2 separate regions of the Homo sapiens genome follow, and region 2 is linked to region 1. The links come from fine-mapping of genetic effects on plasma protein levels. Region 1 holds a variant in brackets. A gene starts in the other region. All regions are shown on their forward strands.

Region 1 (3,024 bases):
CTTAGTCCAGATACTCTAGACAAGCAAATCTGAGGGATCGTGTGCTCAAACCAGGGCAGGAGTGTGACCTTAGGGAAGAAGGCATGAGGGAAAGGGCGTGCGGTGGTGAAGGAGGAGAGTAACGTGAAGGAATGTGTTACGGTTGTGACCACCGTTCTGCAGCAGCCCTGTAGGCTACTCCATCTTGCTGGACAGTCCCAAGAGGTCTTACGGACCTCTGCCGCCTGAGCAGGGCTCTACAGGAGGGCAAACACCTCTTCTGCTTTTTTCCCATTTTGAGTCCCCCAGTAGCTAAGCTTGCTCCATGGGGAGTCACCTTTTGTGCATTTCTAGTTTGAGTCACATGCCCTGCAGCTGGCAAGTCTGGGGGTGATGGGAACTGCCAGAGATGGCTGGTGTCAGCCATAAGGGCAAGCAGAGATCTAGCAGCCAAGATGCCAGCAGAGACTATAAAAGGAGTCTCTTTGAGATGTCGGAGCATTTGCACACAGTGGATTGTCAAATCCTCACAATGGCCCTGTGTTGTTCATTGAATTGTGTACCCCAAAAAGATAGGTTGAAGTCCTAACCCCTGGTACCTGTGAATGTGACCCCATTTAGAAATAGGGTCTTTGCAGATGTAATCAAGATGTGTTTAAGATGAGGTCATGCTGGAGTAGGGCAGGCCCTTAATCTGATATGAATGTTATCCTTTAGGAAGAGAAGAGATACAGAGGCAGGTGCACATAGAGAGGAGAATGCCACATGAGGACACAGATGCACGGGTGAATGCTCTGTGATGATGGAGACAGAGACTGCAGGGGCACATCTACAAGCCAAGGAATACCAAGGACTTCTGGCAACACCAGAAGCTAAGAGAACGGTGTGAAATGGGTTCTCTCTGCGAGCCTCTAGAGAGAGCATGGCCCTGCCAACACCTTGATTTTGGACTTTGGTTTTAGAAGTGTCAGAGAATACATTTCTGTTATTTTAAGCACCCCCGCCCTTTATGGTACTTTGTAACGGCAGCCCCAGGAAATCAAATGAAACAAGGATCTTGCATTTTCACAGCTAATAATTAGAGGAGCTGGGGTCTGAAGCCAGGTTTGCCTGTTGCTTAGATTTGATTTGAAAAATGGTGAAGGCTTTGCAGGGGTGGGATGGGGGAGACCAAAACATGTTCATGTCTGTGGGTAAATTGTAGGTGTATATATTTTTGAGGTACATGAGATATTTTGATACAGGCGTGCAATGCATAACAATCACACCAGGGTAAATGGGGTATCCATCACCTCAAACATTTATCCTTTGTGTTGCAAGTAATCCAATTCTATTCTTTTAGTTATTTAAAAATGAACAATTATTATTATTATTTTACTATAGTCGCTGTTGTGCTAGCAAACACTAGGGCTTATTTATTCTTTCTATTTTTTTGTACCCATTAACTATCCCCACTGACTACCCTTCCCAGCCTCTGGTAACCATCCTTCTACCTCTATCTCCATGAGTTCAATTGTTTTCATTCTTAGCTCCCACAGATAAGTGAGAACATGTGATGTTTGTCTTTCTGTATCTGGCTTGTTTCACTTAACATAATGACCTCTGGTTCCGTCCATGTTGTTGGAAATGACAGGATCTCATTCTCTTTTATGGCTGAATAGCTCTCTATTGTGTGTATGTACCACATTTTCTTTATCCATT[T/C]GTCTGTTAATGGACACTTAGTTTGCTTCTAAGTCTTGGCTATTATGCATAGTGCTGCAATAAGCATAGAAGTGAAGATAACTCTTCAATATACTGATTAAAATAAAAAATTAAAAAACAAGGTGGTGCTCCCTCACACACACAAGAGAGCAGCTCTGTCCAATACAGAGGCCTTGTGGCTACTGAGTGCCTGAACTGTGGCCAGTCTACACTGAAAGGGGCTGTGTGTGAAAAATACGTACTGGGTTTAGAAGACCTAGCACAGAAAAGAATGTAAAGTATCCAATTACTAATTTTTAATATTGATGACATATCAGAATGATTATATTTTGGATATAGTGGGCTAAATAAAATATATCATTAAGCTTCCTTGCACCTGTTAAAAAAAGCAACCACAAGAAAATTATAGTCACATATGTGCTTGTGGGATTTCTGTTGAACAGCACTGCTCTGGAATGTGAGTTCTTTGAAGGCAGAGACCATCTCTGTACTGCTGACTGTGGTCCAAGAGCCAGAGCAGGGCCTGACATACAAGAGTTTCTCAACACATAATTGTGGATAATTAAATGAATGAATAAACGAATGACCAAATCCAATCCAACTCTGAATCTGCTCGTCTGGTCCCTGTGAACATAGGATTGGATGTAATTTTCACCTTGCCTTGTCTCTCTGGGCAGTTCTTCAATGGCTGAGGCTTACAGAGAGAATGCATGCCGCACAGTGCTAGCTAATGGAGAGGCTGGATGTGTGGTGGAATTTGGAGAATAAAAATGGCCAGAGTATTTCCAACCACAATGGCAGTGACCACTTACTGGATACAAATTCTGTGCCTGGCATCATTCTAGGCACATTATATGGAGTGACTCATTTTAATTCTAACAACCTATGACATCAGTCCCACCATCAACTCTATTTGACAGACAGAGGAAATTAAAGCTCAGACAGATAAAATTATGCCCCCAGGGTTACAGAGCTGTTTTTTTTCCGAGTTCTGTCTGACATGACACTTGCACTCTTCACCACCATCACAGAACACAGAGAAGAGGGGACTGGGGGTCCTGCCAACACAGGGTGACACTGAACCAGGTCTGTTCAATTCTGAGGCCCCAGCTCCTGAAAGCAGGTGGCCCCAGCCCTCCAGGATTTGGAAGACTCATTGTCTGTGTCTGGTACCGTGGAGCATTTGGCCACATATCGTCTGTGCATCTAGACAAGTCCTGGCATGCATCCAGCCATATCTTGCCCATGCATCTTCTTCACCAGATGGCGGGACCACCCTCTGTACCTATGATGTGGCAATGACTGCACAGGTGAGTGAGCATTCCCTGTGTTGGAGGAGGGGCC
Region 2 (2,500 bases), not on the chromosome of region 1:
TTCGAGCAGATGAGCCACCCAGAAGGCAGCTCCAGTTATTAGGTCCTAGGGCCTGGGTGTAGTCAGGCCCTTTGGAAGCTCCAAGTCAGAGATCAAACACATCCTCCCCACTACCCACGCCTAGGGTGACTAATGCCTGTGGGAAAAACAACTGAACTAAAAAGTCCCACAGGAACCTCAAACCCAGCACATCCAAAATGGAACTTCTCACCATCTCCTCCAAACTCAGTCCTCTTATACAGTAATCCCTGTAAAGCTAGAACAATCTCCATTCCCCATTCTCAGGGCCTTCCTCTCCCGCTCACCTGAGGAGCTACCAAGCCTTGGCCCACAAGCCCTCTGAGAGTCCCTCCTGCCCACCCTGTGTTCTCCATACTGAATAAGGACTTGGCCACACCTTGTCAACTCTTCCCTCTGCTCTACTCCTGACCCCTGGATCCATCCTTCATGCTGTGGCTGAAGGGATCCCCCCATCATGCAAATTCTGCCACATCTCCCGCCTAAAACCCAGGAAGACTCCCCACTACTCTCAGCACAGAAAGTACACTCCTTAGTATGGCATCCCCTGCCCTCATGGCATGGCCCCATCCAGCCCTCCAGCCTCACACCCTGCAAGGACACCTAGACCCCCACCTCCCTCAACCCTTCATGACTGCGCTTCTGATCCCTGTTTCCCCTGGCTAGACCCTGCGTGCCCTCCCGCTGGAAGCGGTCTAATGCCTGCTTGTTTTTAACACTCAGGTTGGGGCCCCTGCCTGCTCCCGGGAGCCTTTGCTGACTCCTGGACCCCGTTGCTCCGGCTGAGCGTGGGCTCTTTCTCTAGGTCTTTCCTCCCAGGACTCTGTGTATTCATCCTATCGTTAAACTGGATTCTCTACAAGAGTAATAATTGCAGAGTCAGCCAGCTCTCATCCCTTTTCAGGTTTCAGAAAAGACCTGTGAACAAAACGCCTTGAGTCTGATTTAGTGTGGCAATGCCCCAAGGGTCCTGTTCTCCCTGGGTGTCCTGCACCTGGTGCAACGTCGGCCTGGCATCTAGTGAGCCATCTAAAGGAACGATGATGAGTGAATGATTTGCCTACCCCTTCCAGTACTAGGCTGGAGGTCGTGGTTAGGGCCCATCCCTACGCAGGACATGCAAAGTGGGAGGCACTCCTCTCTCTACGTCGGCAGGGGGCGCTGCACAGCTGCGGGGCGGGGTAGCTTAGACACGGGGCGTCCGGCTAAGGCCGGGGACCCAGGGTGGTGGGCGGGGTGTCCCGCCCGCCTGTGGACCCCGCGCAGTAACTGCGAACATTTCGCTTTCATTTTGGGCCGAGCTGGAGGCGGCGGGGCCGTCCCGGAACGGCTGCGGCCGGGCACCCCGGGAGTTAATCCGAAAGCGCCGCAAGCCCCGCGGGCCGGCCGCACCGCACGTGTCACCGAGAAGCTGATGTAGAGAGAGACACAGAAGGAGACAGAAAGCAAGAGACCAGAGTCCCGGGAAAGTCCTGCCGCGCCTCGGGACAATTATAAAAATGTGGCCCCCTGGGTCAGCCTCCCAGCCACCGCCCTCACCTGCCGCGGCCACAGGTCTGCATCCAGCGGCTCGCCCTGTGTCCCTGCAGTGCCGGCTCAGCATGTGTCCAGCGCGCAGTGAGTACTCAGCCCGCCAGGTCTTTGGCTCGCTCGGGTGCGGAGGGGCGGCTGCTTGGGAAGAGTGGGTAGAAACTCAAGTCTGCCTAAGGAGAGACTGGAACAGCAGCAGCCGTCTCCTGCAAAGAGGAATAAGAATAGGGGTCTCACCGTGTGCTAAATAGGGCATGTCTCTTTTCATCTCGAAACAGCCTGATGAGCTATCATTATGCCCACTTCGTAGAGGAGAAACTGAGGCCCAGCGTGGGAGATTTCCTGCTTTCCTGCCTAGGGTCCCTCAGCTACAAACAGAAGGCAGATCCTAGCCAGTTCTAAAGTCAGGCTTGGCCGGGTGCAATGGCTCACGCCTGTAATCCCAGCACTTTGGGAGGCCAAGGCGGACAGATCTCCTGAGGTCAGGAGTTCAAGACCAGCCTGACCAACATGGTGAAACCCCGTCTCTACTAACAAATACACAAATTAGCCGAGTGTGGTGGTGGGTGCCTGTAATCCCATCTACTCGGGAGTCTAAGGCAGGGAAAATTGCTTGAACTCGGAGGTGGAGGTTGCAGTGAGCCAAAATCGTGCCACTGCACTCCAGTCTGGGCCACAGAGTGAGACTCCGTCTTAAAAAAACAAAAAAAGTCAGGCTTTCTCACTCCACTGTTTTTAAAACACTGGGTCCCAAGTCTGACTCAGCCACTTCACCACCTGGTCTGGGTTTCCCTGATCAAAAACATGTAGGCTTTCTCTGGGTGAGTGTTGGGTTCAACACCCTTGTCCAAGCTCATCTCTAGACCCTCACAGGGAGCTGGCTTCTAGCCCTAGAATAGAGTGGCGCTTTGTAATAACTCGAGTCATCTCTCAGGTGTTGAAGGAAAAGTGT

Direction of the effects. Alleles are on the strand shown, and positions count from the first base shown. The strength of an association depends on the size of the effect and on how common the allele is.
With allele T in place of C in region 1, the plasma level of the protein whose gene starts at base 1,296 in region 2 is lower (weak association).

What was found. PIP is the posterior inclusion probability: the model's chance that the variant is causal. Protein levels are from antibody-based Olink assays in UK Biobank. Linkage for the fine-mapping came from a reference panel and not from the study's own genotypes, which makes the PIPs less certain.
Region 2: it holds the start of IL12A, and the variant in region 1 is fine-mapped to the plasma level of the IL12A protein (UK Biobank, PIP above 0.99).

Annotation. Positions count from the first base shown.
Region 1 is chr5:159,433,504-159,436,527 of GRCh38, forward strand. No RefSeq gene overlaps it. Among named protein-coding and RNA genes, the nearest start is that of LINC01845, 31 kb to the right of the region's middle. RefSeq lists an enhancer at 2,447-2,947. The variant T/C (reference allele first, on the strand shown) is at 1,681.
Region 2 is chr3:159,987,540-159,990,039 of GRCh38, forward strand. IL12A (interleukin 12A) reads left to right here and starts at 1,296. Exons shown (of 7, transcript NM_001397992.1): 1 at 1,296-1,635. The coding sequence starts at 1,620. IL12A-AS1 (IL12A antisense RNA 1) reads right to left here. Exons shown (of 10, transcript NR_108088.1): 9 at 1,558-1,754. RefSeq lists enhancers at 1-154, 1,006-1,506, 1,507-2,007, 1,507-1,556 and silencers at 1,067-1,266, 1,337-1,386.